7 linked regions of the Homo sapiens genome follow. The protein of the gene in region 1 interacts with the protein of each later gene in a biochemical or structural test. Each region holds a gene or a part of one and is shown in the gene's direction. Other genes may lie near its edges. The genes, in order: DAPK1, POLR2M, SCEL, SLAIN2, SNURF, JHY and SPATS2.

Region 1 (4,264 bases):
GGGGAGAGACTTTCTGGCATGTTTTTTCTTCAGAAATGGGAACCGCAGGCCACCGGTGGGTTTCTGCATCCTTATAGGACTGTGCTGAATGTGACATTTTTCCTCTTAGCATTTTTGACTCAGAATGCTCTCAGATGTTTCCTCTGATAGGAAAGGGTCCAAAGTTTTAAGAGAGATAAAGTTCAGCTACATAGATTAAAGGCAACGGTTAGTGATTTTAAAAGTGTGTACATTTTAGGAAGGTCTAATAATAATTTTCCAGGATGTGAAGGGAAAGCATGATGGTGTTAGTAAGTGGCAGTTTGGTTGAATGCTTGCTTGCTGGCACTGGGAGTGTGTTGCTGGATTACTAGGGCAGGCATCAAATTTAGGTTCAAGGGGGCCAGGAACAGAGTAGGTGGAGGTGCTTATTGGTCGGGAAGCCAGGGAACATGGAAGCTCACTTCTTGGTCCCCCATGCTCTTTTACCCTCAGCTTGTGTCTCCCCGGCCAATGAGGAAACTGAAGGCCCCATATCATTGGTATATGCCTCTGCAAAGCCATGAAAAACTCATAAGAAACCTACAGAGATGGATGTCCAGATAAATTCCAGTGCACTCATCCCTCGGTATCCATGGCGGATTAGTTCCAGGACCTCTGGGGACACCAGAATCCACAAATGCTGAAGTCCCTTATATAAAATGGCATAGTATTTGCATATAACTGATGTAATCTTCCCATATATCTTAAATCATCTCTAGATTACTTACAATACTTAGTACAATGTAAATGCTAACTAAATAGTAGCATTATAATGTTTAGGGAATAATAACCAGAAAAAAAAGTCTGTATATGTTCAGTACAGATGCAGTTTTTTCCTGAATATTTTTGGTACAAGGTTGGTTGAATCCATGGATGCAGAACCCACAGATCCAGAGGGCTGACTGTAGTTGTATACAGGTGTTATATCAGGAGAGGCAACATTGGCTCTTCCACCTTGTTCTCTTCCCTCCTAGCAGAGTTGTAATCCAGACCACTTCTTTCCAGATGATTAGGGGTGAGGGGCTGAGCTGCTGGATATCTGATATCTGGGAGTGGCATGGTCAAGGTCACATTGCCTGACTCAGCAGGGAAATGTGTTAGGAACTTTCATCCTTCATTCTAGCCAACTGCCATGAGTACCTAACATTTTGTATAAATTAAGTGAATATTATTTTAGTAGAAATTTATTTCTGATTATGAGACAAAGGAAGCCACTCTTCTGACAAGAGGGGAGTGGTTTCCATTGGGGAAGAGTACCCCAGAGAGCTCAGGGACTTTGTTTGTTTGTGTCTTTTTGTTTGTTTGATTTTGTTTTGTTTTTTTGAGACGGAGTCTCACTCTGTTGCCCAGGCTAGAGTGTAGTGGCGTGATCTCGGCTCACTGCAACCTCCGCCCTCTGGGTTCAAGTGATTCTCCTGCCTCAGCCTCCCAAGTAGCTGGGATTACAGGCGCCTGCCACCGTGCCTGGCTTATTTTTTGTATTTTTAGTAGAGACGGGGTTTCACCATCTTGGCCAGGCTGGTCTTGAACTCCTGACCTCGTGAGTCACCCTCCTCGGCCTCCCGAAGTGCTGGGATTACAGGCATGAATCACTGTGCCTGGCCTTTTGCATTTTTGGAGACGAAGTCTTGCTCTGTTGCCCAGGCTAGAGTGCAGTGGGGCGATCTTGGCTCACTGCAACCTCTGCCTCCCCAGTTCAAGTGATTCTCTGTCTCAGCCTCCAAATAGCTGGAATTATAGGCATGCATCACCATACCTGGCTAATTTTTTTATTTTTAGTAGAGGTGGGGTTTCGCCATGTTGGCTAGGCTGGTCTTGAACTCCTGACCTCAAGTGATCCGCCCGTCTCGGCCTCCCAAAGTGCTGGGATTATAAGCGTCAGCCTCTCGCTGTGCCTGGCCGGGACTTTGACCTGGAAGAAGGCTGAGTGACCAGCATTGCCTCCCTTCACATTTTATCCACCTGTGTTTAGACAGGTCAAGTGGCTTTCTCCAGGCAGCTGATTAAAAGGTGGCAAGACATGGACCCAGAACCCAGGGCCAGGCCTATTTCATTATCTGTGCTATTTAGGATTTGGCAGTTTTCCATCTTTGAAAGCCAGATGAAGTTGATATTTAAGAGAGGTGAAGTAGGCAGCCATTTGGCGCCAATTTATTTCAGCATCTGCATGGAGAAAATGGTTAGGGATAAATAGTAGACCCTTCATGGAAGGTTTTCATTTGAAGCCCAGCCAAAGGCAACAGGGTCTGCCCTTTGAGCTCAGAACTTTCGCAGGCCTTAACGACACACTGGGACCTTCTTTCCTTTTCCAAATGGCTTCAGCCTTGCAGTTTGGAATGATGTCAACATGTGGCGTAGTTTTATTCAAGTCCCAAGTTAATGGTTTACCTTTTTAGAAAACTCCAAAAACACTTTCATTGTTATTTAACTTTTGAGTTATGTAATGTCTAAGAGTCTTGTCTCTGACCCGTGCACCTACCTGCCACTGACCAACAGTTTCTCATTTCCTTACGCAACAACTAGTCTGGCTAGCTTAGAGTTGGTGTGTGATTGTTTGAGACTTTATGTGGAAGATAATATTTAATTGTTTTGTTCTGGTTTGTTGGGGTAAATTATACAAATGGAATGCATCCTTTCTCGGCCTTGAAAGAGGTTATATGACAGTACAATTATAATAAATTCAGTGTATGACTTTGGGTACATTCTATTATAAACGAATTTTTTTAAAGGTGCAGTTAGAAGAAGGTGGAAGAAAAAAGAAGTTGACACTCCGATTTTCCACATCATCTAACTAAAATGGATTTAAACTAACTTTCTCTAACTATTAAATCTTTCTTAGGTAAGTACAGTTGTATCCCAGCTCTAGAGTTAATGTGCTGGGTGGGTTTTTACAAATAAAAAATCTAAAACCTAAAATAGTTGTGTTTTATCTTCTGTCCCAATCCAAAACAAAACAAAACAATCATGTGATAGTAACTAATCTCTGGAGATACCTGACAAGCGTGGTCCAATAGTGACGCGGGTTTGTCACTTTGGTCTTTAGGTGACATTGACAGCTGGTGTGGCATATGGATCACACTGTGGTCATTGAAGTATAATGTTGCTTACTTCTGAGAAGTGATCATGGGGCCTTTTTTTTGAGACGGAATTTCGCTCTTGTTGCCCTGGCTGGAATGCAATGGCGCTATCTCGGCTCACTGCAACCTCCGCCTCCTGGGTTCAAGCGATTCTCCTGCCTCAGCCTCCCAAGTAGCTGGGATTACAGGCATGCACCACCACGCCTGGCTAATTTTGTATTTTTAGAGGATTTCTCCATGTTAGTCTGGCTGGTCTTGAACTCCTGACCTCAGGTGATCTGCTCGCCTCAGCCTCCCAAAGTGTTGGGATTACAGGCATGAGCCACCGCATCTGGTGTTCACGGGGCTTTTACCTTATGTACTACCTTTCGATGTTTCAGTTGTGAGCTTGAAAAATTTTATTCAGTAACCTAACATATAATTAGAGATGCCAGAGTGGTGGGGAGGGGAGGGAAGGAGGTTGGGAGAATGTTGTTGATTTTTTTTTTCCCTTTATAAACACATACAACTTTGGACGAAGAACATAATGTTTGAGCAAATGAATGCTTGTAAACTGCCGATCTCTGAAGTGTGAAAAGTTTATATTGATGGCACTTATATTCATAAGCCTGATGGGTTTTGGCTGGGAAATTTGGCTCGAGGTACGGACTTCTTTTGGGACACATTTTATTTTTCTGTCAAAACTGCCTGATTATTCTTATTTAGGAAATATGTGATGAATGAGGCTGGCTGGCAAATATTTTAAGTGCAGTTGATATTATAAATTTTCACCTACAAAAATGAACTACTTTTCATTGTTGAATAGTTATGTCTTAGTTCATTGCTTTTACTTTTGAAACTGTATAAACTTTTCCCTTTTTTTGGAGACGGAGTGTCGCTCTGTCACCCAGACTAGAGTGCAGTGGCATGCTCTTGGCTCGCTGCAACCTCTGCCTCCTGAGTCAAGTGATTCTCCTGCCTCAGCCTCCTGAGTAGCTGGGACTACAGGCACCCGCCACGACGCCCGGCTAATTTTTGTGTTTTTAGTAGAGACGGGGTTTCACCATGATGGCCAGGCTGATCTGGAACTCCTGACCTCAGGTGATCTGCCCTCCTCGGTCTCCCAAAGTACTGGGATTACAGGTGTGAGTCGCCGCACTGGTCCAACTTTTCCTTTTCACCTTAGA
Region 2 (4,264 bases), on another chromosome or scaffold:
TTGACAGGTTACAGAGGATCACCATTGCGGACCAAGGTGAACAACAGTCAGAAGAAAACGCAAGTACTAAGAACTTGACAGGCCTTTCCAGTGGGACTGAGAAGAAACCTCATTACATGGAAGTGCTAGAAATGCGAGCCAAAAACCCAGTGCCCCAGCTGCGTAAATTTAAAACCAATGTGTAAGTACCCTCGGAAACAGGCCTGTAACAGGAACGTGATATTTGTTAAACTCAAAAATTTACGAGAAACTGGGTGTGGTGGTGCTTGCCTGTAGTCCCAGGCTACTCAGGAGGCTGAGGTGGGAAGACAGCTTTGAGTCCAGGAGTTGTAGACCAGCTTGGGCAATATAATAAGACCTTTTCTCTTAAATAAGTCAGGAGAATGCTCTAAGTTCCGTGGGCTTTGTATGAGAACTACTTGTAGTTAGGAAATAACATGTTGTGGCAACACTGAGACCAGCCTGGCCGGAGTAGAAGATTCATGTTGAAAAATATTTAGTTTTGAAACCAAATAATCGACAAGGTCTTTTAAAGCACATGGGGGAGTGTTAAATTTTAGGATGCTTAGCCAGTATTTCATAATAAACACAGAGTTGGAGAGAATTTATTATGACTTCTTTTTTTCAGAACCATTTTTTAGTGTACAGCTTTGATTAGTGTACTATCAAAGTGTACTCTCTTTGATTAGTCTGTGAACTAAGGGTAAAGCAATTGCAGGAGCTGATGGGCTTTCCAGCAGAAATTATTTGCATGCTCACTGTATGTAAGCAAGCAGCAGGTGTTGTGGGGACACAATTAAGTCAAGATTCTTAAAACTCCTTTGCCTTTTTTGATGTTAAATCTCAAGTTTAAAAACATGGCTGTAATGTATACATGTGTAATGTAATACAATACCATGTTCTTCAAGGAGTTTAAGAGCTACATGAGGACCCAAGGTTTACACACTTGGAAAAGAGTTAAGCTACATAATAATAACAGTTTCAGGGGGAAGGAAGCTGAGAAGAGGTTTGAAAAACTGTGAAAATAGATTCAGGCAGGATAGGCAAAAACTCTGCTTATCAGTTCCTTGCCATAAATTTGTTTCTGAAATTTCAGGAAAAGTAAAATCTTTTTGAAAATAATTGCTATTTACTTGCAGCAAATGTAACATTCAACTCAGGTAACTGGTACCTTCTTCCTATATTGTATTTACAAGTATGTAACATCAAAGTTAAATCACTACTACCTTTCTTTGAAAAACAGAAAACCTCTAGTGAAAAGTATCTAAAACATGCTTCTTTTTTGTTAGACTTTAATTCTACCCCAGCATTCATTTTAACCTCAAAACATTTTATTTCTGCTGTATAGAAAATCAGGATTATACTACATTAACGTGATCAAGTACTCTCTTGTGTACAGTGGGGTATCTTTCTTCACTTCCAGGATGACATTTTAGAAAACTAGAACCATCATCTAGTCAATAAATAAAACAAAGAATACATTAATCCCAGTTCTGTATTATGGTCATTTAGCTGGGAGTGGGAGAGAGGTAAGGGAATAGTGAAGAGGGCTACCAAGAATTCAGGAAGTTTAAGAGACAGGGAGCCTCCTGTATAAGTTAGAGGAGAACAGGAAAGGCAGGGCTTTGAGGAGTCCTTAGGCCATAGACAGGTAGGGATTGAGAGGGTTCCGTGTGAGAGGTGGCTTGGAGGTTGGAAGGTGGGGTCAGGTAGTGTCCTTTGGGTCCTTTCTGCTCTTCCTTCTGCATACTCTTCTGGCTTCATGTATCACCTGGATGCTGGAGGCTGACCCCTGTGCACCTCTATCCCAGATCTTCCCAGAACTTTAGGTTTGCATAGCCAATTAACCATGAAACTTGATCACTTGGGTGTTCCCAGGTACCTCAGCTTAATGATGTACAAAGTGGAACTGCAGTTTCTTTCCAAGGTGATTTCCATATTCCCTAATAGTGCCACCACCTTCTCGGTTTTCTTCCCCTAAGGTATCTTCGATTTTTCTCATCTCCATATCTGCTAGCCATGAAGACCTACTTATTTCTTTGATCTTCATCTCTATAATTGTTCTTCATCTTCTGTCGAAGTGAAGACTCTCATCTCTCTCGGGCTGTAATTGTGGCCCCTTCTACCTCTAGTCTTAACTACCAGTCTATCTCCACTGCTGCCAGAGTGAAATTTGTAAGATGGAAATCCGAACTTGTTACGGAGAACTCTTCATTGCAGTCTGGGCCTAGGCTACTTCCCAGCCCTCTTTCTCGCTGTCTTTTCTGTGTAGCCAGAAAAGCTGAGTCTGTCTACCTTCTGTACTTTCTCTCACTCCCCTTGCTGGGATGCACTTCTCTCCTTATTTACATGGGTAAGCAGTTATTATTCCAAGACTGTTCAAAGCTTTTTTGAAACTTTTCTTAGCCTCCCTGTCTCCCACTAGAACTGGCCATTTCCTTATGTTCCAATGTATCTTGTTGAGATATCTATCACAGTATCTCTGGTATTGTATTGCACTGAAACTTTACATGTGTATTTCTTTCTACTGGGCAATAAGCCCTTTTGCAAATGTTCTTTGAATAAATGAAAAAAAAAAAAAAAACTCCAGATGAAATACAAGGTTTGAATAAGGAAGGAAAAGGCAAAGAGCCTGTATGCACACAAACACACCCCTATTTGTTAGAGCAATGAATACTGGTAAATTACTTACTGTTACCTTTGGAGGAGAATTAATTGCTAAGGTAAAGGCCATTTGTGTGAATGTTTTAAATGTGTCTACAAATAAAATAATCTGATTGTATAACACAAGTTTTCCTTTCATCAGGTTACCTTTTCGACAAAATGATTCATCTAGTCATTGCCAGAAGAGTGGGTCTCCTATTTCCTCAGAAGAGCGGCGGCGCAGGGATAAGCAGCATCTTGATGACATCACAGCAGCTCGGCTTCTACCACTTCACCATATGCCCACGCAGCTGCTCTCCATAGAAGAATCCTTGGCACTTCAGAAACAGCAGAAACAGAATTATGAGGTATTTAGAGTATTTTTTTTCTTGTCTGTTTGTTGGGTGCTGCTTACATAAGCTAGAATTTACTCCAGGTTCAAGGAGGAAGGAATGGAATAGAGGGGATTAGGTGCTTCCATGAGCTCAGATCTATGCCACTAGTTTTCAGAGAGTCACAAAGTTGCTAGAACTGCAGGAAGTAGCTAGAGATGATCACAGCTACCTTCAACATTAAAGTGGTGATTTGCCTGGAGATGTGGGGAGACTTGTAGAATTTCATGTCTTAAAGCTCATTTACCTGCCTGTTCCTGTTAGGATAGTAGTAGCATCGCATCTCTCCCTTTCACCTTGTAAAACTCATGTGACAGCTTCTCAGTGGCGGACTCAAACCCAGACCCCTTGTTAGAGAATGAGGAGAATGTAGTTCCCAGGCTTCCATCTTCTGCAGTACAGGGGAGGGCATAGAAGGAGTGGGAGGATAATGTTGTGTAGCCAGCAGACAGTGAGACACTGCTTTAGAGCATAATCTGCAGGCCCATGTGAAGAGAGAAATATCTCCTGCTTTTGGCAGCTTAATCAATTTTGCATAGCACTTTGTTTCCATGTGTTTTGCATTGAACTTCAAACATGTATGTTGAGAGTTTGTATACAGAATAATGGGATGGGAGAAAATAAGTGTGAAGGACCATAGGGGAACAGAAAAGTTTAGAAGTATTTAGTAATAATTTTAGCCTCCAGGAGAACAGTATCCTGTCTCACTTCCTAGGTATTGATTAGCTAGATTTTAGTCAGGTACTAGTGCACCAACTAGTATAACACCAGACTGTTCAGGAGTTCGAGACCAGCGTGGGCAACATAGCTAGACTCCATCTTTACCAAAAAATTAGCCGGGCATTGGGGCATGCAACTGTGGTTCCAGCTACCTGTGGGGCTGAGGTAGGAGGATTGCTTGAGCTCAGGAGGTCGAGGCTGCAGTGAGCCGCAGTCACACCACTGCACTCTGTATAGCCTGGGTGACAGAGTGAGACCCTGTCTCAAAAAAAAAAACAACAAAACAGGCTGTTAATCTGCTTTGGCTTTTCATAAAAGCCTTGGCATGGATTGGCATTATCAAGGTGCTCTTTTTGAAAAAAACCATTTTTCTTTCAGTGCATTAAAATGACTGTCTAGTTATGGCTGTAGCATTGAGGAAGTGTTTACTGTCTCTGAGCTCTTAAATGCCTGTCCTAAGATATTTTTAGGTTGAATTAAACCCTTCATCTTTAAATTGTTTTTTTTTA
Region 3 (4,264 bases), on another chromosome or scaffold:
GGGAAATCTTTATTGGTTCCATATGGCTTCGCTTTCTGTCATTGTCCTGCTTCTAGACCATTTGTTGATCATTTTCCATTTTCTTTGGCTGGGTACTTTGAAATAAAGATTTTAGGTATTAATTGCTGCATACATAGCTGGAGTTGTTCAAAGCTCACTTCTGAATCAAAAGTCTTTTTTTTTTTTTTTTTTTTAAATGGAGTCTCGCTCTTTTCCCCAGTCTGGAGTGCGATGGCACAATCTCGGGTTACTGCAGCCTCCGCCTCCCATGTTCCAGCGATTCTCCTGCCTCAGCTTCCTGAGTAGCTGGGAGTACACGTGTGCACCACCACACCCGACTAATTTTTCTATTTTTAGTATAGACGGGGTTTCACCATGTTGGCCAGGCTGGTCTTGAACTCCTGACCTCAAGTGATGTACCCGCCTTGGTCTCCCAAAGTGCTGGGATTACAGGCATAGCCAATGCGCCCGGCCTTAATCAAAAGTCTTTATCAGTTATATTCCTTAAGTGTTTCCAGCTTACCATTGTACAAATGGTAAACTGTGATTTTTTTCCATGAACTTGTGATTTTGAAGCTCGGGAGAAGCTCTTCCTCACATGGATGCTTTGCCAAATGACAGCTACACGTACTAGACTTTCATTTCATGTCGATTACTAAATTTTTTAAGGACATGAGTCATCCTTTTATTGTGATACTTAATTGGAACAGTGAATTTTATAGCTACCTATTCAATGACAACTGGTTTACTTCTAGATACAAGAACTGATCATCCTGAATCCTCCTTGTAATAGTATACTTGATAGCTCTAAAAATCTGAATAATTTATTCTTTGTCTGTAGACCCAAGTTTCCCTGACTCTAAAATGTGATTACGTATCCTTCATATGAAGCCTCCTGGGGAAAGACAGTGAACTATAAGCCATATTTTCCAAACTGAGATATATACATCCCAGGAGACTGTGTCAATGTTCTAGAAAATGCAATAAAATTATGAAATAAGCATGGCACATGTCTGTATGGAGAGCTAATTTTAGTTAAAAAGCTTTGGAGAAAACTATCCCTATTGCCCTGCCCTCTCCCCAGTTCTCCCCAGGGTTCCCTCTTTTGTCATTAGAGATGCTGTGTGTAAAAGTTTAAAAGAAATTTATATACAAATGCATGCAGTGAGCTGAAATCTAGATAGACTTGAATTTGAACCATGATTCCATGTGGACAAACGGTGACATGTATGAGTATGCCTAACTCACAGCACCAGCAGATAAAAAGAAAAATTAGGATTCTTGATGAATAATTAATAGACATATAAAATTATGTAATTATATATTATATACATATTTTATAATATACATAGCATATTACATAATGGGACATATATGTATAAAATATGACTCACAATAGCACAAAAATATAAAAATCTAGAAAAAATCTCTACAAGAAAAATTTAAAATCTAGATTTAAAAAATAACAACATTTTATAGTAAGACATAAAGGTGAAAGCGGACCTTAAATGTCAGTTCTTCCCAAACTCTTTTTATAGAATCTATGCAATTTTAGTCAAAAGTTCCAATAGAATATTTATCTTGGAAACTTAGAAAATAATTTTTTTTTTTTTTGAGACAGAGTCTCGCTCTTTCACCCAGGCTGGACTGCAGTGGCTCTATCTCGGCTCACTGCAAGCTCCGCCTCCCGGGTTCACATCATTCTGCCTCAGCCTCCCGAATAGCTGGGACTACAGGCGCCCACCACCACGCCCAGCTGATTTTTTGTATTTTTAGTAGAGATGAGGTTTCACAGTGTTAGCCAGGATGGTCTCGATCTCCTGATCACGTGGTCTGCCCGCCTCTGCCTCCCAAAGTGCTGGGATTACAGGCGTGAGCCACTGCGCCTGGCTGAAACTTAGACAATAATTTTAAAGTTATCTGAAAGAAAGGAATAAATGAGAATAGCTGATAGAATTTCTAAAAAGGAAGTTAATGAAGGGTGCTGTGCTACTAGATATTAAAAATGTATGTATCAGAAAAACACAATAATAAAAGTAGCTTGTTTTTATTGTAAGAAACTAAAGACAGTTTTCTTGAGGAAAACGGATAGCCACAAAGCACATTTAAGAATATGTAAGAATTTAAAGTGTGACAAAGGACGTATCATATATCAACGAGAAAGGGATTTATTCTCCCATTACCAAAGTAAATCCACATGGATTAGAGAGATTACATAAAACAACAAAATATATTGTAAAAATTAAAAGAAAAATAAATATTTAGTTAACCTCATGTTTGTTCAACAAATATTCCTCTAGAACTGATTATGTACCAGGTACTGTGATAAGTTTTGAAAATCAGCTGTGGAGAAGATGGGCTTGGCCACTGCTCTTAAGATGTACAATGTGTGAATGTGTGCGGGTGTGAGTATGTGTGTATACTTGTGGGTTGGGGGTGGGGGAAGATTATTCAGCCATACACACAGTCTTAGGTGATGTTATGGAAACTCTTTGCTATTTGAACACATAGTAGGGCTCATAACTCAGCCTGGGGAGGAAGGAGTGGGGCAAGTGGCGATGGTATCACAGAGTGATTCCTGGAGGATATAGAATGTGTGATCTGGAAGGTGAATGGAAGTCTTTCCTGAAGGAAAATGAGGGGTTGAGGGAAGTTCAGGAAGAAGAGTGTTTCAGGCATAGATAGAATAAGCAATAGCTCACAGGTGATGAAAAGGATGGAGCCCCAGGCACTGGAAGGAGTTGCTGTGGCTGAAGCCAGAGTGTGAGTGGGAAGTGGGGAGTTGGGGGAAATGAGGCTGGAGGGTATGGCCTTGTCAGCCTTGTTATCAGTTCGATTTTATCCTGACAGAAAGGGAACACCCTTGAACGACTTTAAGTAGGTGATGACTACTTTGGCACCAGTGAGGAGGAGAGTGGATTAAGTGAGGAAGTCTGGAGATTGAGAATGTAGCTGGGAAGCCGTTGGAATAGTCAGGAGATTATGGTAGTTTGAATTGGTGTCTTGCAAATAGAAAGATACACAAGAGATGTTGAATTATAGGACTTGACGATTGCTTGGATTTCAAGGTCAGAAAGAAGATTGATGGATGGTCTACAAAGATGGCTTTTAAAGAGTGAAAGTGGAAGAAATTATAAAGGGAAAAATAGGGAATGCAAAATCAAAAGCTTCTGATACAAAATTTATAATTAGAAGCTAAATGAAAAACTAGTAAAGATGAATGTTCCTGACATATAAAGAAAATGAGAAATCAGTAAGAAATATATAATAATTGTCAATGGATAATTTATAAAATAAGAAAGAAAATGCCCTGTAAAGTGAAGAAAAATATGCGAGTAAAACAAAATGATTCTACTTTCACCTATTATATTATTAAAAAGATTAATGAATGATAATTCTAAATGCTGGCAAATGAGTGAACACTCATATGTTGCTGGTGGATGATAAACTACTATAAGATTTACGGAAAGAAACTCGACAATAGGGATCAAGAATATTTTAGAAATTATACATCTTGGCAAGTAATTTCACTTCTCGGATTCATTCAAAGAAAATAATCAGATACTTGGTGAAAGACTTTTGTATGGTTTTTTAGAAACAACAGAGGAATGATGTTACATTGATAAATAAAATGAGATATTTTGTAGCTGCAAAATAAATATTTAAATATTCTTAAATGGCATTGGAAAATGCATATCAGTAGGCTCTAAATGGGCAAAGAAAAACCCTGGAAGAAAATTACAGTGATTGATTAAAGGTGTCTGATTTTTTTTTCCTTTCTTTATGCTTTCTTGTATTTTCCACATTTTATATATGCTTTCTTGTATTTCCACATATGTTCTAAATATAGTGAGAAAGATTTATGTTGTGTAAAATTGGGATACAGAACAGCTACATGACAGAGCTTTTGTGAATATGAAATACAGTAAAGTATTTAAGATAACTAACAGGGTTTTGGCTCATAGTCTGTGGTCAAAATTTGAGTTTTTACTCATTTAACTTGTATTTTCAGCTAGAACTGAAAATAGCCCCTGATGGGGCTCAGGTGATAGATAACTTTTATTGGATAGCTTTTTTATTAATGAATATTAGACCAGTGTTTTTTGTAAAATGAAATAATTATAGGCCACTATTCATGTTAAAGCTTGCTGTTATCATTCTGCAGAAAAGATGGGCTGTAAGAAAAAGAGCTGGTGAGGGTTGTGTATTAAAAACCAGAATCAGGCCGAGGCAGGCGGATCACGAGGTCAGGAGTTAGAGACCA
Region 4 (4,264 bases), on another chromosome or scaffold:
TCTCCGGCAAGAATATGCAGCCACCACGTCTCGGCGCAGTTCTGGTTCATCTTGCAATTCTACAAGACGGGGTACTTTTAGTGATCAGGAACTTGATGCACAAAGTTTAGATGATGAAGATGACAATATGCATCATGCAGTATACCCTGCTGTTAACAGGTTTTCACCATCACCACGCAATTCACCTCGACCGTCACCTAAGCAGTCACCCAGAAATTCACCTCGTTCACGATCTCCTGCTCGGGGAATAGAATATAGTAGAGTGTCCCCACAGCCTATGATTAGCCGCTTACAGCAACCTCGCCTTTCACTTCAAGGCCATCCCACAGATTTACAGACAAGCAATGTTAAAAATGAAGGTAAAATAGCAGATTTTACTAATAATTAGACAGTTTCTGCTAGCCTGTGTAACATAGCAAGACCCCGTCTCTAGGAAAAAAATTTTCAAAATTAGCTGGGCATGGTGGTGCACATCTATAGTCCTAGTGACTTGAGAGGCTGAGGCTGGAGGATTGGTTGAGCCCAGGAGTTCAAAGCTACAGTGAGCTGTGATCACACCATTACACTCCAGTCTGGGCAACAGAGCAGGATCCTGTTTTCAAAAAAAAAAAAAAAAAAAAAGTTTCTAGATTAAAAAAAGAGAAAAAGTGTCCTTTATATTTCACTATGAAAGTAATACAATTTTTGCTAAGTTTTTGTATTTCAGATAAGTAAATCAAGAGTGTAGTCAGGTTTACTATTTTATTAATAGTGAATCATTACAAAAATAAAAGAGAAAGTGAATTTCATTTTACTTGGTTATGTTGTTTTTGCTTTATTGTTTTATGAAGTTACCTGTATTTAGATTTTGCTTTAAATATAAAATTTGTGGTTATCTTTAAGTGTTCTCTTATTCTACCCACTTAACAGATCCTAGATCGAGTTGTTTGTTTTTTTTAATAAGACAAGTCCTTTGTATTTTCTCATCTAAAATAAACAGAATGTTTGATAAACAATTTGATTTTTGAATGCTAGTTAATATTTTAATTTTCTCCATCTGAAAGAATATGATTTTTTTAAAATTAAAATTCTGTTGCAGAAAAACTAAGACGCAGTCTTCCAAACCTGTCCCGAACATCTAATACACAAGTTGACTCAGTGAAAAGCAGCAGAAGTGACTCAAATTTTCAAGTGCCAAACGGAGGAATACCTCGTATGCAACCTCAGGCTTCAGCCAGTAAGTATCCTTCTTATGCTTTCATGTATCAGTTATTTAAAGAGAAGTGAAAATTTTAGATATTTGTTTTATGCTGAAAAACCGTTTTTTATGCTGAAAAACCGTTTTAAACCATAGCTATAGTAAAATTTAGTGTTTATTAGTTGCTGGATGATAATCAAAGTTATATTACAATTTAAAATTTTCTATGTAGGATACTTGATTCTGCCAGTACATCTGTCTATACAAAACTCTGGTCTCTCCAGAATTTTAAAATAAGCAAAATGTAACTATTAAAAAAGTAGGTGTAGCTTTTGCTTATAGATACTAGAATTAGAAATAAAAACCAGTAGAGCATCCAAAAATATATGTCCCTTAGTACGTAAATTTTCTTTAATAACCTCCACTTTAAAAATACCTAAAAGTTTGATTATTACATAATTTTAGAATCATACTCAAAATAATCCATTGTTCAAACCTGCAATATATTAAATCTGTTATCAAAGTTGAATTGTTGAAGTTCTTTTCTTTCCAAAACAAAAGTATACCAGGAGAACTCTTGGATGATCTCATTTTATTTCTGCATCTGTTGAGATAAGATTTCTGGTTTTGATTTGATTTTCTGTGTTTGTTAAGGCTATTTTAATGAAAAAATACAATATTGAATCAATATGTATGCCAAATTAATTCATAGTCCTAATCCTACTTATAGATTAAAATTTGAGATAAATTGCCAGAAACCATCACTTTTTAAGAATTGATCAGGACTTGTCTCTTTAAATTATCTTTCAGAAAACAAATTCTTAGAGTTAAAGCTAAACTCTTAAACAGAGAAGGTGAATTTTAGAAGTATAGTAGAAAGAACACATGTAGATTATAATTTTTAATAAGTTTTGGTCATTGGGTGGTTACTAACCCATGAATGTGACAGTATTTGTATTCAACTATTATTTGTAATAGATACTTGAGTTTTTATTTTGTGGCAAGTAGTATGTTAAATCAATACAGGCATTTCTACTATAGCACAAAATATGCACTCCTTAAAAACCTCACATTCTGCAGTATTACACAATAAAAATGATAGGATGATGAGGAGTGGAGGGAATAGTCCTGGAACAGACCACTGAAAACCCAAGCAACTTTCTTAGAAAGCATTAATAAAAACAATAATGATACTAGCACAGTTAAATTCATGTTAAATCTTTATTAAATACTCCAGGAGATATAGAACTTCATTTTTAAAGAAAGATTTGAAGGTAATGTGATGGAAAGGAAAGGTTGAGACTGTTGAATTAAGGAAACATATGCAGCATAGACGAAGATCAGAGAGAATCATACAGTAAGATCATCTAGGACAAAATAGCCAAACTGAGCCAAGAAGTAGTGATGTTGGAGTAAATGGGCATTGTGTATATTAATGTACAAGTTGATTTTAAAGGAATTTCAAAAAATTACTTTTTAGCTAGGATAGATTTGAGCGTGTAGTCAAAACGGTTTTAAATAAATGATTACAGTTATTTTTATGATCTTATGAACGCTCAGTATTCATCCCATGTGTTTCACAGCTCACATCAGTCCCGTATATGAGCTCTGAGACACAAAGGGTGCATATTCACTGGGGTCCTTGTAGGGACACAAGGGATGCTTATTCACTCAGATCCTTGTAGGTACACAATGGATGCATATTGTCTCAGATCCTTGTGGCATATTACTATCAGTGGTTGAAGTGGTAGCTGTGTTATATTCTTTCATTTTCTCAAGGCTATGAAGAAGTGATACAAACGAGTTTGTTGACTGTTCACTTATAACTTGTTTATTAAGCAGTTAAAAATTTGAAGATATTTAACCCTTTTTTCATTTTCATCTTTTTTTTTCTTTTTTTTTTGATTGAGTCAGGGTTTCACTCTGTCACCAGGCTGGAGTGCAGTGGCACAATCATGGCTCACTGCGGCCTCACCTTCCTGGGCTCAAGTGATCCTCCTGCGTAGCTGGGACCACAGGCGTGCACCACCATGCCCAGCTAATTTAATTTCTTCACACTTTTCCTTGGCCCTGTTGTGTTTAGCTGACTTCATATACTTCATGTTAAGCTGTTGTTACTTAGTGGCTCAAAAATCAACAGGCTAGCAGGAGTTTGAGACCAGCCTGAGCAACACAAGACCTCGTCTCTAAAAAAATGTTTTTTTTTTTTTAATTACCCAGGCATGATGGTCACATGCCTATAGTCCCAGCTACTTAAGAGGCTGAGGTGGGAGGATTGCTTGAGCCCAGGAGTTTGAAGCTGCTGTGAGCCATGATCATGCTGCTGCACTCCAGTCTATTGAAAGAAAAAAAAAAAAAAAAAAAGCTACGAAAAAACTATATTTGAATCAAAATGACTTCTGTGATATATTGACAAATTTTCCTTATTTACAAGGTGCATATGATATTACTTATATAACAAATTTATATTATACTGTATTTAGATGCATAATCTTATTTAATCCTTAGAACAATTCTATGAAGGAGGTACGATTATTACCACATTTTACAGATTAGAAATTGAAGCTTTGAATGGCCAAATAACCTATCTCTGATTATACAGCTTATAAGCGGCAAGTTAGAATTTAAACCCATGTTGATTCATCTTGAGCACTGGATCTCAATAGGTGAGAGTCCAAATTCACCTAGTGAGAGTTGTCACATCTATGGTTTAGACCATGATATAAAACTTATCCAGAAATATAATTTCCATTTTTCCTAAGATTTAAAATTCTAACGTTTAAAGCACTGTAGAAAATTGGTACCCAGAGATTTGTAAACCACATTTATTCAGCTAGATATATGCTAAAACCTGTTTTTATAGCAAATTACATTTTAAACTTAGTACTCCAAGTCTTATTGTGAACTCTGTAACTGAGAGTGCCATTATAATACTCACTGTAGTACTAATAAATAGTATAGAAAACAGGAATTCACAAAACACTTGAAAGGAAGGATAGAATTTGAGCTTTATCTTTGAAATCGTGAGTGATACAGATTAATTTGACACTTGAGAATATCCTGTTTCTGGCTTCTTTTTTCCCCTGA
Region 5 (4,264 bases), on another chromosome or scaffold:
GAGAGGACATCGTGATGGCTCTTCCCGACTAAGGTTGAAAGGTGTTTCAAACACTGGACCTCTTCATCTTCTGGGAGTTGAAAGCTGCAAGTTTTGTGCTCAAAGAGAATAAAAGAGAAAAGTGGAGACAATCTTATTGGGGTGGGGTTGTGCTTTGGATCAGTTACTGTCTTTTTTTGGATTTTTAAATTAATGATCATTTTTGAAGTTGGAGCTACTACAAAAATTTGGTGAGAAAGGTTAATGAATAACTGCATTTTTATATTCCAGTACTTTTTTAAAAAATCATTTTATTCTAAGGATTTTGTCTTCCTTTGCAGGATTTTCAGTGCTTGCCTTTTCTGTATTTACATTTTCCCTCTATCATAACTGGTATGTCTGGTTGCACTGAGTTGTAATTAACAGAAAAGTTAAATCTACGAAGCCCGAAAAGCCTTGTTCTGGAATAATCTATTTTTGGGTAGTTTTAAAAATAGCAGGAGTCTGGGATTTTATATGATATTTATAATTTACCCTTTTTTTTCTGCTTGCATGAAGATAGCAGTTCACATACATATATTTCTTGGTTTAACTTCTGGTCATTTGGCTATTTGCAAGCTGAGTATTTAGTCTGATCCGCCATTTTGTAGTCTTGCATTCAGGCCCGGGATCCTAATATGGCAGATCCCTTTGGAAAGGCCTCTTGAAGTTTCAAGGTCTGTGTCCTACTCAGTGAATTGGCTCTGTGCTAGGGCTTTTTGGAGGCAGGGAGTGGCAGCCCTTCCTGTGATGCAGAGGAAGGAAGCTTGGTTGAGAGACCCTTATGTTGTTGTCTAAGGCAGGGTACTAACTGATTTGGATTTATTCACAGACCTTGCCTTATCTTGATTTCACTATTCTATCTGACCAGTGTGTCATTGCCGAAATGTTTTCCACATTTATAGTTACTCTGTATCTTTATGTTTCCCTTACCCTGTTCCTTTTCCTAATAAACATCTTTGTTTTACAAAAAATTTTGTTTATAAGGTGTCAAGGATGCCAAGATAACCTCCTTTGTTTATCAGCGCCCTCTGTTTAGCTATTTTTTAGGAAGAATCATTTAAGCAGGTTGTGAGTACTGCCCTCAATTACTTGGACAATGAAGTTTTAAAAATCTTATTTAGACCTGTCACTGGTCCTGTCTCCTTTTTTTTTTTTTTTGTGGCCCAGGGCCAGAAAGCTTGAGTGAGAATTGTTACTACTTAAGGTAGCCTCTCTCCATTTCTGGATGCTAGCTGGCTCAAAGTTTTTTTTTTTTTTTTTTTTTTTTTTTTTTTTTTAAATAGACCAGGGTCTCCCTATGTTGTCCAGGCTGAACTCGAACTGCTAGACTCAAGCTATATCCTCTCCCTCCTCAGTCTCTCTCTGGCCACTGTGGCTGGCCCAAATTCTCTTTTTGTTAATTCTCCTCAGATTTGTTTTGGAGGCAATGAGGTTTCTTATATTCATGGGGTACAGATTAGCAGCCTATCATTAACCTTATTTTTTTGTTTTTAGGAGACAGGGTCTGGCTATGTTGCCCAGGTTGGAGTGCAGTGATGCAGTTATAGCTCCCTGTAACCTCAAACTCCTGGATCAATCTAGACTCCTGCCTCAGCCTCCCAAGTGCCTGTTAGTACAGGCTTGAGGTACTGTGCCCAGCTAACTTTTTATTTTTTTGTAGAGAGGGGTCTCCTTATGTTGCCCAGACTGGTCTCGAACTCCTGGACTCAAGCAGTGCCCCTGCCTAGGCCTCCCAAAGTGCTGGCATTGCAGCCATGAGCCGCTATACCTGGCCAACTTTGTTTATTTTTATTCTTGAGATCTTAGTTAAATTTTATGGAAAATTTAGGCCGTAATAAAATTGGGATTCCATTGCTTTTTGCTTTTCAATATATTTCCGGATTATTACTTTCAGTGTAAGTGATCTGAGGGCAAACATTTAACACCCTTTCTATATGATGATTTTTTCATGATGTCCTCAGTTTCATAAAATGTTGGTTTCTGTGTTGGGGATGCAGTTAGATAAATGCATGTGTGTGTGTATCTAGAACATTCAATAAAGTAGTGTTTTCAAAATCTTATAGATGACATTTTATATGTAGATTAAAAATAAGTAGATTTAAGCCAGGTGCGGTGGCTCATGTCTATAGTCCCAGCACTTTTGGAGGCCAAGGCAGAAGGATCACTGGAGCCTGGGAGTTCAAGCTTGGGTATTGAGACCCCGTCTCTACATTTAAAAAAAGGTAAATTCAGAAAGTTGAAATAATAGAATATTTTGGTTTGATGGCTATTTCCTCAGTTGACCTCAGACCTTTCATATTGAGCAACTGCCGAATGGGTTCTTTTTGTTTTTTGGTAAGACAGTGTTTGCAGTTGTACACTATTAGATTAATCATGGTTTAGTTGATAGTTTCTTTAATTGTATTATATTAAGGTACTACATTATTAGCTGTATTTGTGTGCCCACCATAATGTAGCACTGATCAGTACTAAATTCCTTTTTATGGCTGAAAGACATTCGTTTGGATATATCATATTTTCTTCATTCGTAAGTTGATGGACATTTGAGTTGTTTCCACTCTTTGGCTATTATGAATAATGCTACTAGGAACACGTATAATACGTTTAATACAAAGAATTAGTTTCACAAGGTTTTACTTAGCCCTCGTATATGCCAGGTTCTTGAAATTTTGTCTTTTTGGAAGTATGAGAGTAGTGGTAGCTGGGAAGGCTGCAGGTATAATAGAAAGAACATGAACTGTCTGGGCATGGTGGCTCATGCCTGTAATCCCAGCACTTTGGGAGGCCGAGGTGGGTAGATCACCTGAGGGCAGGAGCTCGACATCAGCCTGGCCAACATGGTGAAACCCTGTCTCTACTATAAATACAAAAATTAGCTGGGTGTGGTGGTGCATGCCTGTAATCCCAGCTACTTTGGAGGCTGAGTTTGGGTCTTGTAATATTACTTCATCTAGCAGTAGAGTTAGTGTCATATGTTACTTTCATGATTAACATTTTTAGGAAGTTGGCAAAGTCTATATATAACACTTTATGTTTCCACCAGCAGTTTCCCCACATCCTTTACAAATATTGTGGTGTCAGATGGTGGCATTTCAGTGGGGGTTTTTTCATTTTGAGGCAGGGTCTGGCTCTGTCACCCAGGCTGGTGTGCCAGTGGCATGATCTCAGGTCACTGCAACCTCTGCCTCCTAGGCTCAAGCGCCCTCTCACCTTAGCCTCCTGAGTAGCTGGTACCACAGGCATGCACCACCACACCCAGCTAATTTTTGTATTTTTTTGTATAGATGTTGCCCAAGCTGGTCTCCTGAGCTCAAGTGATCGCTGGCCTCAGCCTTCCATGAACCATTGCGCCCTGCCTCATTGGGATTTTGATTTGCATTTTTTAGTGACTAATGTTCAGCATCATTTCATATAGATTAGCCACTTGTATGTGTTTGGAGGACTGTCTATTCAAGTGTTTTACCCATCGTAGCAATAGAATTTGCCCTTTTATTGTTGAGTTGTGAGAGTTCCTTACATATTCTGGATACCAAACTTGAAAAAATACTTTTTTGAGGTGTGAGTGACATACAAAAGCTGTAGATAGTTAATGTTAAAAGTTGATATGCTAAGAGATAAGTACATGCCTTTGAAATCATTCTTATCAAAATTAGTGGCATAAATGTGTCTGTCACCTGAAAAAGTTTCTTTGCCTCTCCCTACCTTCTTTTTTTTCATTGTTTGGATTTTCTTTTTGTTTGTTTTGGATACTAGAAACTTAGCTGTATGTTAAGCAAATATTTTTTCCTATTCTGGTTATCCTTTCACTTTCTTTAGTGTTTTCGGAACTTTATTTTTTGATGAAGTCCACTTTATTTTTTATACTGCTTGTAATTCAGGTGTTATATTTAATAGACCATTGTGTAATCAAAAGTAATAAACATTATCAGTGTATAAAATTTTACCATTTAGAAATCAAATATGTGTGTATGGCTTGATTAGAACATTTAAACTCTTGAAAGAATAAAACAGCTGTGCGTTATTGGTAAGCTATTTTACCAATCTAAAAGTCTAACATGACTTAAAAACATCTAGGGTTCAGAGAATTATTAATAGCTTTTGGCATGTATCTTTGAATTTTGCTTTTGAGATATTACTTGTGTTACTTTAGTGAAAGGTCCTGCTGACCTTTCTGATTTATCATCTTTAAAGGTTCATAGGTGGTTTCTGCAGTCCCTAATATGGCTAGTCTGGTGTGGGATTT
Region 6 (4,264 bases), on another chromosome or scaffold:
TATGCACTCTTGAACAACCAGATCTCACCATAACTCACTCACTACTCAGAACCAAGGGTGGATGGTGCTTGCTAAGCCATTCATGAGAACTCTGTCCCCATGATCCAGTCACCTCCCACCAGGCCCTACCTCCAACATTGGGGATTACAGTTCGACATGAGATTTGGGTGGGGACACAGATCCAAACCATATCATACAGTAAATACAAAAGTCAGTAACATAGTTGTTGATTATCATTATCAAGGATTATATGCTGTATATAATTGTGTGTGCTATACTTTTATAGGACTGGCAGTGCAGTAGGTTTGTTTATACCAGCAGCACCACAAACATATGAGCAACACATTGTACTATGATATTCCAAGGGCTACAGCGTCACTAGGTGACAGGAATTTTTCAGCTCCATTACAATATTGTAGGACCTCAGTCGTATATGTGGCTTGTCCTTGACCAGAACATTGTTAGTCAGTGTATGAAATGTATTACCAGCCAAAGTGTGAAACATAGTTTTATCTTCACCAGCTGAAATACTGAGTCATTGTTGGTGTACGTAAGTAATCGCATTCATTGAACCACAGTGATTATTTGTTTAACATTATAGATATCTGTTTTTCAGTTGTCTTCTGACACTTAGAAATTAATTGTCCCCCATTTTTATTCCATATTTCAATGAACTTGGATAATTAAGGCCTTTCGCCCTTATGTGTAGTGTGTGGGTCTAATTTGGGCCTGGGATCTGTCTTTATGTTTATTAATCAATTAATTTATTTATTTTAAGAGACAAGGTCTCACGCTGTCTCCCAGGCTGGAGTGCAGTGTCGTGATTATAGCTCACTGTAGCCTCTAACTCCTTAGCTCAAGCAATCCTCCCACCTCAGCCTCCTGAGTAGCTGGGACTACAGGTACGACACCATACCCAGCTAATTTTTTAAAAAAATTTGTTGTAAAGATGGAGTCTCGCTGTGTTGCCCAGGCTGGTTTTGAACTCCTTGCTTCAAGCGATCCTCCTGCCTCGGCTTCCCAAAGTGTTGGGATTACAGGTATGAGCCACTGCACGCTGCTGGGATTTGTGTTTAGCATACAGATAATAAAAGGAAAACTATAGGAGAAAGACTGAGATTGATTTCAAATAAAATGTTCAACTGACTATAATGAGTGAATTTATTTCAACTAAGGACTTGGCATTTCTCTTCTGCTTTGGGCAGGCAACAACCAATAGAAGACAAATATTCAGACCTCCGCTATGACCCGAACTGGAAGAGTAAGAAGGAGGAAGGGCAGCTGCTGTCTGTGGAAGCGTTGCCGGAGTCCACGGACAGCTCTTTAGAAAATCTGCCTTTGGCTCCCCTCTACCCTTCCCAGGAGACGTCAATGGAACTCTCCGGGGGAAAAGGCGAGCAGAAAGAGAGTCCACAGAGTGCAGCTTCTTTACTTGGTAGTGAATTTTTAAGCCCAAACTATGAGCATGGTGCCCGTCGCAGCAAGCCGTTTTCAGAGCTGAGCGACAGTGACCTGGAGGAGAAGTCGAGCAGCCTTTCTCCGTACGTGAAGAGCTCAAGTTCACATAACGAGGTTTTCCTGCCGGGATCACGTGGCCCTCGGCGAAGGAAATCCAAACAACATTTTGTGGAAAAAAACAAGCTCACTTTGGGATTACCCACCCCGAAAACGGACTCTTATCTTCAACTTCACAATAAAAAAAGAGGGGAATCTCATCCAGAACAGGTACGTAGTGGCTACTTTAAAATGTCTTCTGAAACATTAAACCAGAATTTGCGTTTGTTTGCAGTGTCTAGATATCGCTTCCTTTAAGATGACGATGTCATAGCAGCCACCTAGCTGGGTAAAACAAACGCTTCCATAGGCTATCCTGTATGTTTATGTTTATTCCATAAATTCTTATGACCAAAATAAAAGCCACCAATGGTTTACAGTGTAATTGCTACAAGTCGATTATTGCTATAAGTCAATTATTATATCCAAAATTGCTATAATTGCTATAAGTAATTATAAGTCCATTGTTATGTCAGTTATTATATCCGAAATTCTCCATTCAAAGAAATCTGGAACTTTTTAAAACTGTGTTTTCCAAATGATAAAATATAGAACTTAAGCATTTGATTCCCTGTGTTGATTTCCTTTGTTACCACCATAGCAGAGGTTTTCAACCCTGTTAAATGCCCCAGCACATTGTGGGTGACATGGAACATGCCCCAGCTCACATACAGAAGCGATTCTCAACTCAGATTCTGTATACATATTGGGCGGTCGGGGAGTGGGTAGGGTACAACATAAGGTGGGTTTTTTTTTTCAATCTTCAGATGTTTCTATAAACCCCATTGAAAATCACATCATTTGTTATTGTCCTGTGTAAATGATATGATATGATTAAACATTAGTCTCTTTATTTGTAAAATTGGGACAGTAATAAATGCCTTCTCTTCCTCATCAGGTCATTTTGAGAGTAAATTCTCTCCCACGTGATGGATTCAAAACCTTTTGGAGCCAGTAAACTTAGTTCCATTTCACAGGTGCACATAAAGACCTTCCTGCCCACCTCCTATGGACATGTCCAGGGATACAGGACAAGAGTGGGGTTAGAATGGTAGAGTCCACCACTCTTACTGGAAAGAGCTTGAGATTTATCACCTGCTAATGTGAGGTCATTTTCAAATACAAAGGAGAGGTTATTATGTTAAATGTGGTTGCCCTTAGACCTATTCCAAATCCCAACTGGTATTTTTTTTTAACATATTCTAACCTGTTCTAACCTCTAAGCATTTTCTAATGGAACAAAATAGATGAGGTGGATGAACATTTGTGGCTTTTCTTCAGAGACTCCCTTTTTTGTCTTAAAGAATTACGTCTGGTGGCACGTTGGCTCATGCCTGTAATCCCAGCACTTTGGGAGGTCGAGGTGGGAGGATCACTTGAGGCCACGAGTTCAAGACCAGCCTGGCCAACATGGTGAAACCCATCTATACCAAAAATACAAAAATTAGCCGGGTGTGGTGATGCACACCTGTAATCCCAGCTACTCGGGAGGCTGAGGCACAAGAATCGCTTGAACACGGGAGGCAGAGGTTGCAGTGAGCCGAGATGGCGCCACTACACTCCAGCCTGGGTTATAGAGTGAGACTCTGTCTCAAAATAAATAAATAAAAATAAAAAAAGAATGATGTCTGGTGAAATTTGGGCCTAAAAATATTTTAATTTAAAAATAAAAATAAATAAAATTCAAAAAAAGAATTATGTCACATCTTTGCCACTGTAACTAATAATTAAATGAAATAGGTGTAGTATATATAGCTGAAGTATTTAAAAAACTAGGTGAATTCAAGCAGTTTTTAGTATTTTTACCCAATTTTAGATGTTAGTATACTCTTGTTCCATAAAACTTACATGAAATTTTGAATTTTGCTTGATTGCTCATTTAAAAATGAAAATAAATTCAACAGTCCAATATCTTTGAAAAAAAATTTCTTTTGAGTCAGGGTCTGGCCTTTCACCCAAGCTGGAATGCAATCGCACGATCATAGCTCACTATAACCTCGACCTCCTGGGCTCAAGCAATCCTCCTGCCTCAGCCTCGGCGAGTAGCTGGGAACACAGGCATGCACCACCACATCTAGCTAAATTTGTTTTTAAATGTCTTTATAGAGATGGGGGTCTCATCATGTTGCCCAGGCTGACCTCAGACTCCTGGGCTCAAATGATCCTTCTACCTTGGCTCCCAAAGTGTTGGGATTACAGGCATGAGTCACCATGCCCAGCCTGAAAAATGTTTATAGCCAGTAATTTATCTCAAACTAGGACAATATTTTTCATTATTAAAAAGTGTTCTCAAAAGAAGCTGATCCGGAAGGAGAACATTTGGGGGTTTTCTTCATTCAGAAACTCTCTTTTTAGTCTGAGGTCAAAAGAAATAGTTTTATTTCCAATAATAAAAGGGAAAAATATTTATTATGAACTCTTTAATTGTTGATTTATTAATCGCTATTTTTGTTAGTAGTTATAAGTTAATTTACTAAACAATTTTAGGGTGTATTGATTGTCAGTGATTCCACAGCTGAATTTTCTTTTCTTTGTGCCATGGAGGAAACTTTCTTTAAGCTCTTATATTACTCTCTGAAGGGGCCATTGACTTTTCCCACCACTTTCTCCAAGTTCAAATATCTAAAGGCTAATTGTATTTAAAATTGTTCCTTTACCATTTTCCAATATATATGTACTTCTTCTTGCTCCTATTATTTTTTTAAGAGAT
Region 7 (4,264 bases), on another chromosome or scaffold:
CATGGGGGCTTCAATTATATTTATTTTGTTTTAATAAACTCAGTGGCATGCAATGGGTGTCATTATGTTTTATATGCCTAACATAGTTTATAATTTAAATTGTTTGTATAAATTATCTTTATTTTACAGTTAAATGATACAAGGTAAAATATGTTTCAAAAAATCTTACATAAAAATCTAAGTTGTTATTGTTGCTAGTTCATTTACCTTTCCACCTTTCTTTACAGTATGCTAAAAATGAGGGAATATTGATGCCACATTAATACCTGATACCGAAATTAAACCACCTTTTCTTTATATGAAATCTAGCATATAACTTCTATTTCTAGCAATGTTCTGCATTTCTAAGTTTTGAAATTAATTTTTCACATGCTGTTATCACTCATCTATTAATCATTCCCAGTGAGATGCTTGTATGTACTGTCACTGACACTAAAGAGTGATACATATTGTTAAAAATGAAATATCACTCTTTTCATTATTCTCTGTATAGGCCTCAGCTGCCTAGTGACCTACTAATGTTAGAATTAAATGACCCTGTCATCTTTTCCAGATAAATGCGGTACGTGCAATAGTTCCTAATAAGAGCAACAATGAAATTATCCTGGTTTTGCAGCACTTTGATAACTGTGTGGACAAAACAGTACAAGCATTCATGGAAGGTAATCCTGACTTAATTTTAAAAATAAATTTATATTTGCTCAAATAGAATTTGCTTCAGACTTTTATAACATTCAGCAATCCAGTGATTCATAGATGATAGAGCAGACCCCATGAAAACATAACATACCATGACATTTGACGATACCTCTTTCAGCTGAAATAAGCTATGTGGTGTCTATAATAAGAGATAAGCTGAGAAAACTCCATTGTTTCACGCTAAATGTTCTCTAATGGTATTTAAGAGGAAATCATGTGGCCAGTGGTATAAGGGACTTGATTGGACTTGGGTTGAATAAGAATTTAAGAGACTCTTAATAACAAAGCAGTGATTCAGTGGCTCACCAACAGATGGCAAATTCAAGGACTCAGTATTGTCTTCCGGATTCTAATATCGTTAGTTTGGCTGTGGCAAGTGACTCAAATGTGTGGGTTTGAATTTCCTTATCTAATACGTAGAAGAATGGCAGGCTTAGTCAACCCTTCAGATTTATAACATTGAGAAGTGTTTTATGAACCTTCCTTCCATGTAACCTGTTGGAGAAAAACTATCTGAAGCTATTGCGTCTTTGAATAGCAACATGAGGTTAGGTCTCCCTGTTTTTATTTTCCTGAATCTGCCAACATAGGATGCACAAGTTTGAATGTTGTAAAGTTTTTCTTTATCTTCATCTTTTTAAAAAATAATGTTAGTGTTTTGGTCTAGGGTAATGTGCAGCTGTCTCCAAAACAACATAGCCAAGGTGGGTGTGTAACTGGAGGGGAAAGGATGGCACACTTGGCTAAAACCAGTGTGCCATCCCCTTTGTATTTGGTCTAAGATGTATGGATAAGAGAATCTTCAAAATGGCCCAGCTACATTAGTCTCTTCTTAGAAGAACTTACTGAGGAAATTACTCGGAGAGGAGGGGTCTAAGTAGGCAGGTATTCCAAAAGGGAAGCATGGCATGATTATCTCATTACATTACTTTAGACCTGATCCTTAACTTTAACTTTTCTGTTAGGAGCTTTGTAAATTCTCCAGCAATTACAAAATGGGAGGACACTGACTCCTGCTTGACTACTGTGTGTGTGGTAGGAGACAAAATCTGTAATTGGTTTCTCTTACAGGTAGTGCCAGTGAAGTACTCAAAGAATGGACAGTAACAGGCAAGAAAAAGGTAAAATGAATTACATTTAAAAGCATGATGATGTGTATATTATTTTTAAAAATTTAGGCTCTGCAAAAATATTTGAAAGAAAAGGTTCACATACATATCTTCTGTTTACCTGGTTAAAAAACATCTTTGGCCAGGTGCAGGGGCTCACACCTGTAATCCCAGCACTTTAGGAGGCCAAGGCAGGTGGATCACTTGAGGTCAGTGGTTCAAGACTAGCCCGGCCAACATGGTGAAGTCCCGTCTCTACTAAAAAATAGAAAAAATTAGCCAGGTGTGGTGGCACGTGCCTGTAATCCCAGTTACTCAGGAGGGTGAGGCAGGAGAATAACTTGAACCCAAGAGGCAGAGGTTGCAGTGAGCCGAGATTGGGCCACTGCATTCCAGCCTGGGTGACAGAGTGAGACTCCATCTCAAAAAAAAAAAAAAAATTCTTCGACCTTGAAACATAGCTGTGTCTCACAGAGTACCACACAGTCCTCTCCGTGTGATTTAAGGCAGGAAACAGAATGACTTTGCCATGGTGCAGTTATTAGACGGGTGAAAAAGACAGCAAATCAAGGAAAGCAAGAGAAAGCGATCTAATTGAGTGGTTTTCAACCATATTCATACCATAAATCAGTTAAAACAGTTCAGATTTTTGGTCGGGCAACTGGGTTGTAGTCCTGATATTAATGAGCTTTGACATAAAGCTGTTAGGTGCTGGCCAGGCACGGTGACTCATGCCTGTAATCCCAGCACTTTGGGAGGCTGAGGTGGGAGGATCACTTGCGCCCAGGAGTTCAAGTCTGGGCAACATGATGAAACCTGATCTCAAAAAAAAGGCTATTAGGTGCCTTGCAGAGGGGTCTGATGTTCCACTTTGAGAGGTAGAAAGCACTCAGGCTATGGGATCAGTCAGAACTGGATTCCTACCCTGTTCCACTATCTACTGGCATTGTGACTGATATTGCTTAACATTTGTGCCTTAGTTTGCTCATCTCTAAAATAGAAAAATAGTTCTAATAAATACAAATACATAATACAACGCCTAACATATTAGTTCTCGTTCCTTTCTCCTTATTTACTTAAAATCAGATGCTTTTCCCAAAGGATACCAGCTGGTCTCAAAATTCTTCCCACAGCTCTGCACTGTAAAGGTAACCCCTTTAGGAAATGCTTGAAGTATGGATTTTAATCAAGTATCTCTGTGAAATCTGTTTGGGGTGTTCTTTTCTTTATTAAGTCAGTGCTGGAGTTCTGAAATGCTTTCATCATGACTCTTACATCACTTTTTAGGAGTCCTGTCAGGTCTTGAACAAAAACCAGGCTTGGCCTCAGTGACGCTTGAGAATTTTTTCCAAGGGTTACCTAATACTACACAGATTCTTCTGAAGCTCTTCATACCTGTAGTTTTGAATATTTGTTTAACTTCTTCCTGCTGCTTTCAACCTGTTACATAGATAACTGTGAGTGTCCTGGAAAACACCAGTTTCTTTTTTTTCTTTTTTCTTTTTTTTTTTTCTTTTTGAGATGGAGTTTTGCTCTGTCGCCCAGGCTGGAGTGCCGTGGCGCGATCTCGGCTCACTGCAGCCTCCGCCTCCTGGGTTCAAGTAATTCTCATGCCTCAGCCTCCTACGTAGGGCGGGACTACAGGTGCGTGCCACTGCGCCTGGCTAATATTTGTATTTTTTAGTAGAGACAGGGTTTCACCATGTTGGCTAGGCTGGTGTCGAACGCCTGACCCCAAGTGATCTGCGCACCTTGGCCTCCCAAAGTGCTGGAATTACAGGCATGAGCCACTGCACCCAGCTAACACCAGTTTCTTAATTTATTAGCCCAGGATTATAAGTTACTAGTGATATAAGATGTGCATGGACCTGGAAGAGGATGTGTGTTAGAGACACAGACATTCCTTAAAATTTGGAGAAAGAAATATGACTTCAGTTTAGCAGTCCCAAATGCACAAATCCAGTCCAGTCCACTTAACTGTTGGGATTAGTCCAATAGGATGTGACTCTGAGTGGGATAGTTATGATATACATGACCCAATGATATGAAAACTTAGCCAGTTCACATGGGGGAAAGTAAGAAAAAGAAAGATGAGGCCGGGCACGGTGGTTCATGCCTGTAATTCCAGCATTTTGGGAGGTCGAGGCAGGTGGATCACTGGAGGTCAGGGGATTGAGACCAGCCTGGCCAACATGGTGAAACCCTATCTCTACTAAAAATACAAAAAAATTAGCTGGGTGTGGTGGCACATGCCTGTAATCCCAGCTACTCGGGAGGCCAAGTCAGGAGAATTGCTTGAACCTGGGAGGTGGAGGTTGCAGTGAGCCGAGATTGCACCATTGCACTCCAGCCTGGGCAACAAGAGCGAAACTCCGTCTTTAAAAAAAAAAAAAAAAAAGAAAGAAAGAAAGATGAGAGCTGTTAAGGCAAAAAGTTTATCTAGAGTTCAATCATGT

What was found.
Region 2: the proteins of DAPK1 (region 1) and POLR2M form a complex in vitro, tested with the Homo sapiens proteins (one large-scale study listed by BioGRID and IntAct).
Region 3: the proteins of DAPK1 (region 1) and SCEL form a complex in vitro, tested with the Homo sapiens proteins (one large-scale study listed by BioGRID and IntAct).
Region 4: the proteins of DAPK1 (region 1) and SLAIN2 form a complex in vitro, tested with the Homo sapiens proteins (one large-scale study listed by BioGRID and IntAct).
Region 5: the proteins of DAPK1 (region 1) and SNURF form a complex in vitro, tested with the Homo sapiens proteins (one large-scale study listed by BioGRID and IntAct).
Region 6: the proteins of DAPK1 (region 1) and JHY form a complex in vitro, tested with the Homo sapiens proteins (one large-scale study listed by BioGRID and IntAct).
Region 7: the proteins of DAPK1 (region 1) and SPATS2 form a complex in vitro, tested with the Homo sapiens proteins (one large-scale study listed by BioGRID and IntAct).

What each region holds. Positions count from the first base shown.
Region 1 is NC_000009.12:87,504,070-87,508,333, forward strand, and holds part of DAPK1 (death-associated protein kinase 1), read left to right. Parts: intron 1-4,264. UniProt on the Homo sapiens protein: Calcium/calmodulin-dependent serine/threonine kinase involved in multiple cellular signaling pathways that trigger cell survival, apoptosis, and autophagy.
Region 2 is NC_000015.10:57,709,178-57,713,441, forward strand, and holds part of POLR2M (protein GRINL1A), read left to right. Parts: coding exon 1-181; intron 182-2,806; coding exon 2,807-3,011; intron 3,012-4,264. Other genes in the region: GCOM1 (GRINL1A combined protein), read left to right, coding at 1-181, 2,807-3,011.
Region 3 is NC_000013.11:77,537,942-77,542,205, forward strand, and holds part of SCEL (sciellin), read left to right. Parts: intron 1-4,264. UniProt on the Homo sapiens protein: May function in the assembly or regulation of proteins in the cornified envelope. The LIM domain may be involved in homotypic or heterotypic associations and may function to localize sciellin to the cornified envelope.
Region 4 is NC_000004.12:48,382,569-48,386,832, forward strand, and holds part of SLAIN2 (SLAIN motif-containing protein 2), read left to right. Parts: coding exon 1-359; intron 360-1,078; coding exon 1,079-1,216; intron 1,217-4,264.
Region 5 is NC_000015.10:24,957,223-24,961,486, forward strand, and holds part of SNURF (SNURF protein), read left to right. Parts: intron 1-1,515; exon of another isoform or gene 1,516-1,646; intron 1,647-2,102; exon of another isoform or gene 2,103-2,243; intron 2,244-4,264.
Region 6 is NC_000011.10:122,902,720-122,906,983, forward strand, and holds part of JHY (jhy protein homolog), read left to right. Parts: intron 1-1,205; coding exon 1,206-1,725; intron 1,726-2,452; coding exon of another isoform or gene 2,453-2,512; exon of another isoform or gene 2,513-3,191; intron 3,192-4,264. UniProt on the Homo sapiens protein: Required for the normal development of cilia in brain ependymal cells lining the ventricular surfaces.
Region 7 is NC_000012.12:49,488,912-49,493,175, forward strand, and holds part of SPATS2 (spermatogenesis-associated serine-rich protein 2), read left to right. Parts: intron 1-553; coding exon 554-662; intron 663-1,770; coding exon 1,771-1,820; intron 1,821-4,264.